Linked DNA regions of Homo sapiens: all the other regions are linked to region 2. The links come from fine-mapping of genetic effects on gene expression. A gene starts in region 2. Each other region holds a variant in brackets. All regions are shown on one strand. Distances are between the middles of the regions. Region 1 holds the start of SLC43A3 (solute carrier family 43 member 3). Region 2 holds the start of PRG2 (proteoglycan 2, pro eosinophil major basic protein). Region 3 overlaps SLC43A1 (solute carrier family 43 member 1).

The links.
Region 1: its variant is fine-mapped to the expression of PRG2 in sun-exposed skin (GTEx, PIP above 0.99).
Region 3: its variant is fine-mapped to the expression of PRG2 in unexposed skin (GTEx, PIP 0.96).

What each region holds. Positions count from the first base shown.
Region 1 is chr11:57,424,880-57,427,635 of GRCh38, forward strand. SLC43A3 (solute carrier family 43 member 3) reads right to left here and starts at 2,242. Exons shown (of 14, transcript NM_199329.3): 1 at 2,183-2,242; 2 at 1,709-1,773; 3 at 1,110-1,473; 4 at 662-791. The coding sequence starts at 1,293. RefSeq lists enhancers at 174-966, 659-1,858, 967-1,759 and a silencer at 2,002-2,361. The variant G/A (reference allele first, on the strand shown) is at 1,566.
Region 2 is chr11:57,389,310-57,392,065 of GRCh38, forward strand. PRG2 (proteoglycan 2, pro eosinophil major basic protein) reads right to left here and starts at 1,341. Exons shown (of 6, transcript NM_002728.6): 1 at 1,287-1,341; 2 at 578-647; 3 at 1-8. The coding sequence starts at 635.
Region 3 is chr11:57,501,282-57,504,037 of GRCh38, forward strand. SLC43A1 (solute carrier family 43 member 1) reads right to left here. Exons shown (of 15, transcript NM_003627.6): 3 at 1-48. Among named protein-coding and RNA genes, the nearest start is that of SLC43A1, 13 kb to the right of the region's middle. RefSeq lists an enhancer at 1-330. The variant TC/T (reference allele first, on the strand shown) is at 1,475.

The DNA.
Region 1 (2,756 bases), 36 kb after region 2:
AGGCCGCTGATTACCACTGAGCCTGGCCACAGAGCACGAGATTAGGATGCAGCAACACACTGTGTGTGAGATCACGTCCCGAACCTTCTGACTCATCTGCACAGGAAACCCCCCCAGTCTCCCCTCCAGTCAGAAGGGACCTGAAATTCCACCAGTGGCAATACCAAAGAAACTTCCTATTAGCTAAGCCCCTAGGGAGTGATTGGCTGTTGGGGCGGGGAGGGGGGGCGGTGAGGAGGATGAGGATGAAGCCTGGGCAACCTGGATGTGAGGCTGTGCAGGGGATGAGGACAAGGATCCTTGGGGTGAAGGAAGAGAAGAGCAATTTTAGGTTTTGCTAATTTTGTAACCCTGGCTCCAAGCCAGCCCTTACAGGAAGTCACCCTGGCCTCCGGCTCAATTCAGCACGTGATAGGGAAGCCACATTTATGCAGAGCAGGGAACGAGGTAAGGAAATGGAAGTGGGGCTGTGGTGAAGTGGGCAAGTCTAGAGAGAGTCCCGCTGCCTGGGGCTGTTCCTAACAGCTGCTGGGAGCGAGCTGCAGGTGTGGTGCCTGGCAGGGTGGCCGGGCTGTCTGACTCTGGATTTCACTCCAAGCTAGGCTGCTGCCTGAAGGATTCCTCTTACCCACCTTTGCCTGGGCTGGCCTTTGGGACTTACATGGCTATGAGGCGTGCCACGGTGGTCTTGAACCGGTCAAAGATGTAGCCAGTGGGGAATGTCATGAAGTTGTTCATGAAGGACCCCAGGGTGAAGATGAGTGAGAACCTCTCATCCTGGGCTTTGCAGTCTGGAGTAGAAAAAAGGTCTCCCATGCATCCCAGCCTTCCTGCCAAATGAGCACACAGGCTGGGCTCCCCTCCACCTCAGACAGCTTGTCGGTCGCAAACTTGTCCCTTAAGCTGAGTTGAAATGTGGCTGCCCCTAATTACCCCTCAGGAGCTGGTGCCTCCCTCCCAGGCACTTCCCAGATCAAGTGGGGTGAGAGCTGCTGACCCTTCCTCTCATCATAGAAAGAGGGGTGGGCAGGGGGCAGAGTCCTTCCTGCTCCTTGCCACCACGTGGGAGCCAGACTTAACTTCCTTAGAAAAGTCATCCCTGCCCTTACCAGCCTGCCCTGTGGCATTGCCAATCGGCCCAGCATCTGGTCCACACAGATCCTTAAAGTAATCTTCATTCTTGAAGACAAACACTAGTGAAGGCCAGCCAAAGAGGACGCCAGCAAAGCCCAGGCATTCCAGCAGCCCAGTCAGCAGTGTGGCCACGTGCAGGGGCAGGCCCTGGCCCGCCATGAGCAGAAGTGGAGTGGATCTTCAAATCCCACTTTGTCCTCCTGGACGGATCACAGGCGCCGTAAGCCTGGCGTTTGAGCACTTGGAAAATTCCTCTGGCAAGCCAAGCCCTTCCTTTCCCGTAGCTCTCTGGTTGTTTCAGGCCTGGGCAAAAACCATCAGCGGGTGATTCTCTGGATCCTGTAGAATAAAGATAGAGGCTGCTGGAAGAGGAGGCCTGCGGGAAAGGGAAAGGTAGACTAGAGTTATTTGTGAGGTGCATTAAGAGGCAG[G/A]ATGATCATGGCCGCTGGCAGCAAATGTGGGGAATAAATACTCCAATACATCATCTTAGGCACTGCATTTGAGTAACCACGTGGCAAGTAGAGAGGCAGGTCTTGATGGCCACCTGGAGTCACAGGTGAGATAAACGACTTACCCAATAGCTCCCCGGGAGCAGGTGGAGAAGCGGAGCTCCTGCGCTCGAATTCTGAATACCGTCCCCTAAAATAATGACAGCAACTCAACCAGGTGCAGAGGCAGGGAGATTTCATACAGAAGACACAAACTCCCGCTGCCAAGTTGGTGTTATCTTCAGTTTACTGACAATGAAACAAAAGCTCCCATGGATTTCAGGAACTTGCCCAAGGTCACAGGGCTAGTTTAGTCACGACGCAGGCCATTCTACTGCCAGAAATACCCCCAACTCCCATGACCCTCGCCTAGGACTCGCAAACCTGGTCCCCGCCGCCCTTCCTCGCATCAACTTCTACCAGGAAAGCCTCCGGGGGCCGCTCCCCGCCAGCCTCCGCACCCCGCTCCAGCCTGCGGCCTGCCCTCCCCGCAGAGGAGCCCGAGGGGCCAGGCCGCGCTCGGCGCCCCATGGCGCCCGAAAGGGGACCCTTCGCCCTACCCGCCTGCTCCGCGCCGGGGCTCTCCGCGCCCTTTCCGCACGGGCCAGGTTCGCATTCGCGCCTCTCGCAGCCCCTCCCAGTCCCCTGCTCGCCTCCGCCCCCTCCTGCCCGCCCGGAAGGGGCTGGGGCAGACCTCCCACTCTCCATCACTTCCTTCTTCTTTTCCCTTGCTCACAGCCTCCCGCGCCCTTTTTACCTCTCCCTCTTGAAACTTCTCCCTCTAGAACCCCCTAGAACCCCAGCGGTGTCTTTCCCTCCCTCCTCGCTGCCTTTCAGCCTCCCAGCCCCCTTGCCTCTGCCTCCCCTAACCAAGTTAGTTGAATGCTGTTACTCGCTCAGGCCCACCTAGGGAAAATGTCACACCCAGCACCCAGAGGACACACAGACAGCACATGAGGGCATAGGGACACACACACTCTATTTGTGCATTTTGCCTTGACCGCTGGGTTGGCAGGGAACATATTTTTCCTATTTGCTCACCAGCTTAACCGTCTCTCCCAGTTTCACACTCCCAGAGCTGCCAAAAAAATCCCAACCACAGAATCAGGAAGCCAAGAACCAGGACTGAGGGCT
Region 2 (2,756 bases):
CTCAGACCCTGGCAGGGAGGATAGCTAAGTGTCCTTCCTTCACATCTCCCCTTGTTCCTCCCCAGAACCACAGACAGCTCACACCTTGCCCTGGGCATCAGAGTGCTCAACTCTGCCTGGGAAGGGGAACCTGGAACCCAGTCTCTATGAGGGGAACCCAAGCTGCCTGACAAGGTCAAGGTGGTTAAGAGCATGGACTTAGAGTCGGGCAGTCATGGGCTTGGGTACTGGTTCCATCATCCACCAGCTGTATTTCTGTGAAATGGGTATACAATACCACCTACTTCATGGCGATGCTAAGAGAGTTAAAGGAGAGAAGGCACTCAGTAAGCTCAAAGTAAGCATAATGGAGAAAGGACAAAATTGGGAATGTCACAGTAGAACCAAGACCACAGACATAACAGACGCCTTGAGAAATCCTTTCAACTCCTGGCCATAGAGTCCCCATCCCTTTAAGCACACAGAAATTCAGAAATAGAAGACGATCAAAGAAGGGGGTGGGTGTGTAACTCTGACCCCATCTACCATAGAAAGGGAAAAAACAGAGAAAGAAAGACTGAAGGCAAAAAACACTTACTTAGATGAAGAGCAGAAACTGCCCCAAATAGAAGAGCCAGAAGTAAGGGGAGTTTCATCTTGGCTTTATCCTGCAACGGAGAACACAGTTTGTCATTGACACACACAGACACACATGCACACACATCACAATCACACCATTAGGGGACCGTGGGAGTGAGGTGGAGAAAAAGAAGGCCTGAATAGAAATCAGGATGGGCCAGAAAAGCTCATGCCAAGCCCAGCTCCTGATGCTCCAGGATCCAGGACGCAAGGACCTCTTTCTAAACAGAACGCAGCAAACCCTGAGGGGTGGCTGAGGCTGGCTTTCCTTCAGGCCCGGAAGTAAAGAAGGGACTATTACGCTTATTTGTTTGTACTTAATGGGTCCCTCAGAGTCTATGACATAAAAAAGGCGGGAGAAGCAATGATTATTGGCTTTCCTAGGAACACATAGGACTTAGAAGGTATGTCCCCTCCTCAGAGTTCAAGAAGCCACCCACACCCTCCTCCATGTCTCCACCATCTCCTTTCCCCAGCCAAGGAGCACTTTCACATCCCGCAGAAGGAATGTGCAAGGCAGAGGATGAAGGCTGCCCCTGCTGACATCCTCATAACCTGAAAGCCACAGGTAGACGCCTGCCAGCCCTCCAGAAACTGTCAGCCACAGCCAGGGACCTCCTGGGAGAATAAACTGTCACCAGCTCCACCACAGCAGAGAAAGCACTCACCCACCCAGAGACCTTCCTGGGTCTTTAGATCTTCCCAAAGCCCAGGTCCTTCTTTGCTTCCTCTCACAAAGACTTCTTATATAGAGGCCTTGGAGGAACTTCCCCCAGGGAGAGAGAGTTTGCCTCTGTCAGAGGGAGATAGCAAGGCTGATAAGGACCATTTCATCACTTCCCTGGGGAGCCCACTCATTCATTCAGTGAAGATTTCTCTCCCGATACCCACTTCAGGAACCCAGGGGCCATCTGGAACAGCTCTGGGCAATGGTTCTTATCCTGGGCTACACTTCAGAATCGCCTTGGGTGCTTTTCCAAAATACATATCTCCCCTGTTTTACTGGTGTTTTGAACTGCCACAAACATTTTGAGAACAAATCTGTCCATACCTATTAAAATAAAAAAATGCACATTTGATCAGTTTCACTCTTTTGAGACTATCCTTTAGGCATAAATGCGCCTATAAGTAATAAAACTTTTACAGAGTTATGTTATTCCTTGACTATTTGTAGAAATGAAAACAATATTGATATCCATCAATCGGACACTGAGTAAAATGTGTCCTCTCTATTCTACAGAATGTTATATGGCTATGAAAAGAAGAGCTGGACCTGTATCTATAAACCTGAAGAGATGTTTCTGTGACATGAAGTGAAAAAAGGCAAGATACTGAGGAAAGTATTTAGTATGTGAATAGTTTTACAAGGAAAAAAAAAACCCCCGCATAGGTGCTTATCTGTGAGCATCCTTATGTGACCATTGATGGAGGGAATGCTAAAAGGAATCACACCAAATAGTTGACCTTGTTGCCTCCAGAAGCAGGGGAGGAGAGGGAAGAAAGCAGGAGACAGATTGTTGTTTATCTTCTTTTTATAACTTTGCATTTCTTCAGTGGTTATGGTAAATGCGTGCTGAATCTGTAATTTTGAGGCTGCCTTATTAAAGATTTTTAAAAATATGCAGATGCCCTGCCCAGAAACTTCTGCTTGGCTAATAGGTCTAGCGTGAAGGTCAGATGTCTGCATTTTTTTAAAAGCTTCCCAGCTGACTGTGATGGAAGATGGGTCTAGGAGTCACTGTCCTGAGGATCTTCAAGTACAGGAAATGTTCACGTATGTCTAACTTCTTTCCTTCTGAATCAGACCACTCAGTTGGCCAACCTACCAGCCTTCATTATGGTAACATTTACTGAACATTTTTAAATGCCATGCATGGCAAGTGGCTGGATGCAGTGGCTCATGCCTGTGATCCCAGCACTTTGGGAGGCTGAGGTGGGTGGATCTTTTGAGGTCAGGAGGTTGAGACCAGCCTGGTCAACATTGCAAAGCCTTGTCTCTACTAAAAATACAAAAATTAGTCAGGCATAGGGGTGGCTGCCTGTAATCCCAGCTACTTGGGAGTCTGAGGCAGGAGAATCACTTGAACCCAGGAAGTAGAGGTTGCAGTGAGCTGAGATTGCACCACTGCACTCCAGCT
Region 3 (2,756 bases), 110 kb after region 2:
CTGGCCACCTGCGCTGCTCATCCTGGGTGGTGTTGGTGCTGCTCTCAGCTGAGGAGGGGGAAGGGAGGGCTCAGCACATGACACCAGGAACAGCTGGGCACAGGAGACAGCAGCCCACAGTCAGGCGGCCTGCTTTCAAATCCCATGCCAAGTGCCTTTGGGGGTACCCTAGAGTCACATCTCCTCTGATGGGGCTGCTCCAGAAATGGCAGCCATTAGTACCTGACCCTGGGAGAGTCTTGTGCACACACAGCCTGAGGCTTCAACTAGCTCAAATGAAATACTGGACATAAAAGTATTTACTAAGTTGTAATATGCACTCAGTGTCCAAGCTTAGGGGGTTGTGGACCCCCAACAAGAAGTGCCCCCATATCTAGAGGCAAAGGCAAAGGCAGTGAGTGGTACTCTAATGGCTATAACAAGAATTCATTAAAATGGCCCGGCGTGGTAGTTCATGCCTGTAATCCCACCACTGTGGGAGGCTGAGACAGGCAGATCGCTTAAGCCTACAAGTTTGAGACCAGCCTGGGCAACATGGTAAAACCCCATCTCTAAATAAAAAAAAGAAATTTAGAAAGAACACTAAAACTTAGAGGAAGCTTTCCCGATAAATGATAGTCTGATAAAATAATAGCTAATACTTATTGAGCACTTAACTATGCTCCAGGCACTGTTCTAAACACAACAGCCCCATAAGTCAGTTAATAAAGTATCCCGTTCCCTAGGTGATGAAGCTGAGGCACAGAATGAGAACCAGGCACTGCCCTCCAGTCCCCTCTAGAAGTCCACTTGGAGGACTTGTCCTTAACGGTAAACTGCCAACTTGGAGTTGTGACAAGTTAAGGAGAAAAGCTAGTGATAGGAGACAAAGGGCTGCTTCGCTTTACTCAATGCTCAGTGAGTCATGAGGTGGCTGCCCCCAGGCCTCCAAGTTGTCACTTGGCAGCACTGCCAAGGGCAAACTCAGGGTGCACCTGGAGCAGGCAGACAGACCAGGGTCTGAATTCCCACCACCAGCCTTACTAGCTGTGCACCTTGACCAAGTAACTTTCTTCTTGTCTGTAAACCGGACCAAAGAATGCCTAACCCACGACCTCCTTAGGAGGATTAAATTGGAGACAGTAAACAAAGAGCTTTGCACAGTGCCTGGCCCAGAGAAAGTGCTCCTGAAGGATCTGAGGAAGGGGTAGCTGACCCTCCTGGTGGGTCATGTGGTAAGCACGTACTCTAGGAGCTGGGCATCCACACTACATGAGACAGGAAGTTCTCAGCTCTAGAGTGACAGGTGCTGCTAAAAGAACAAACCAGGCCAGGTGCAGTAGCTCACACCTGTAATCTCAGGACTTTGGGAGGCCAAGGTGGGTGCATCTCTTGAGCCCAGGAGTTCAAGACCAGCCTGAGCAACATTGGGAAACCTTGTCTTTACAAAACAAATTTTAAAAATCAGCCGAGCATGGCGATGCATGTCTGTAGT[TC/T]CAGCTACCTGGGAGTCTGAGGTGGGAGGATTGCTTGAGCCCGGGCGGTCGAGGCTGCAGTGAGCCATGATCACACCATTGCACTCCAGTCTGGGTGACAGAGCAAGGCCCTGTCTCAAAAAAAAAAAAAAAGAAAAGAAAAGAAAAGAAAAAGGAAACAAAAAAACCAACAAGGGGACAAGGGGATGTGATAATGCCTGGATACTAGGGGGTGGTAGAGGACATCTGCCCTCAGTAGTGAAAATGACCCCTGACTTTACATATCCAAAGGTCATGCAGTTGGCAGAAGAGTAAAGATAAAGGAATCTGTGTGTTGACATAAGGAAGAACACAAAGGCCTGGCAGATCCTGAGTGTTGACCAGCCATGGAAGGAACTGTCCTGGACAACAGAGAGTCTTCTTCAGTACCAGCTGCCAAGGAGGTGGGGAAAGTGCTCAGACACCTCCAGGAAGCACTTAGGGGTTGGACCACACAGCCTTTGGGGATCAGGCTAGCCCTATAATTTAGTGATCTTTATGATCACTGTCATTTCTCTACAGGTTTTTTTTTTTTTTTTTTTTGAGACAGGGTCTCACTCTGTCTCCCAGGCTGGAGTGCAGTGGTGCAATTATAGCTCACTGCACCTTTGACTTCCCAGCTCACTGTAGCCTTGACCTCCCGAGTTCAAGTGATACCCCCACCTCAGCCTCCTGAGTAGGTGTGTCTACAGGTGCATGCCACCACACCTGGCTACTTTTTGTATTTTTTGTAGAGATGAGGTTTCAACTGTTGCCCAGGCTGGTCTCGAACTCCTGGGCCCAAGTGATCTGCCTGCCTGGGCCTCCCAAAGTGCTGAGATTACAGACATGAGCAACTGTGCCCGGCCTCTCTACAGGTTTATCTGCATTGGTTTATTCATTCTACACCCACTTACTGGATATTTACTATACAACAGCACTGTGCTGGGACAATGCGTAAAGCAAGAAGAAATACAAAGATGATTTTAGACCAGAGGCTGCACACCGGTGACCAGCAGTTGCCCCCACCCATGTTTTGCTCTGCTGGCAATGTTGACCCTTATAGTGTTGTAAATTATAATTGGGTGCCAGTTTAAAATCAGGAGTTATCACATAAAAATCCAGATGTCTTGCTTCTCTTTAAAAAGTTAGAAGATCGGCCAGGTGCGGTGGCTCAAGCCTGTAATCCCAGCACTTTGGGAGGCCAAGGAGGGTAAATCACAAAGTCAGGAGATCGAGACCATCCTGGCTAACACGGTGAAACCCCATCTCTACTAAAAATAC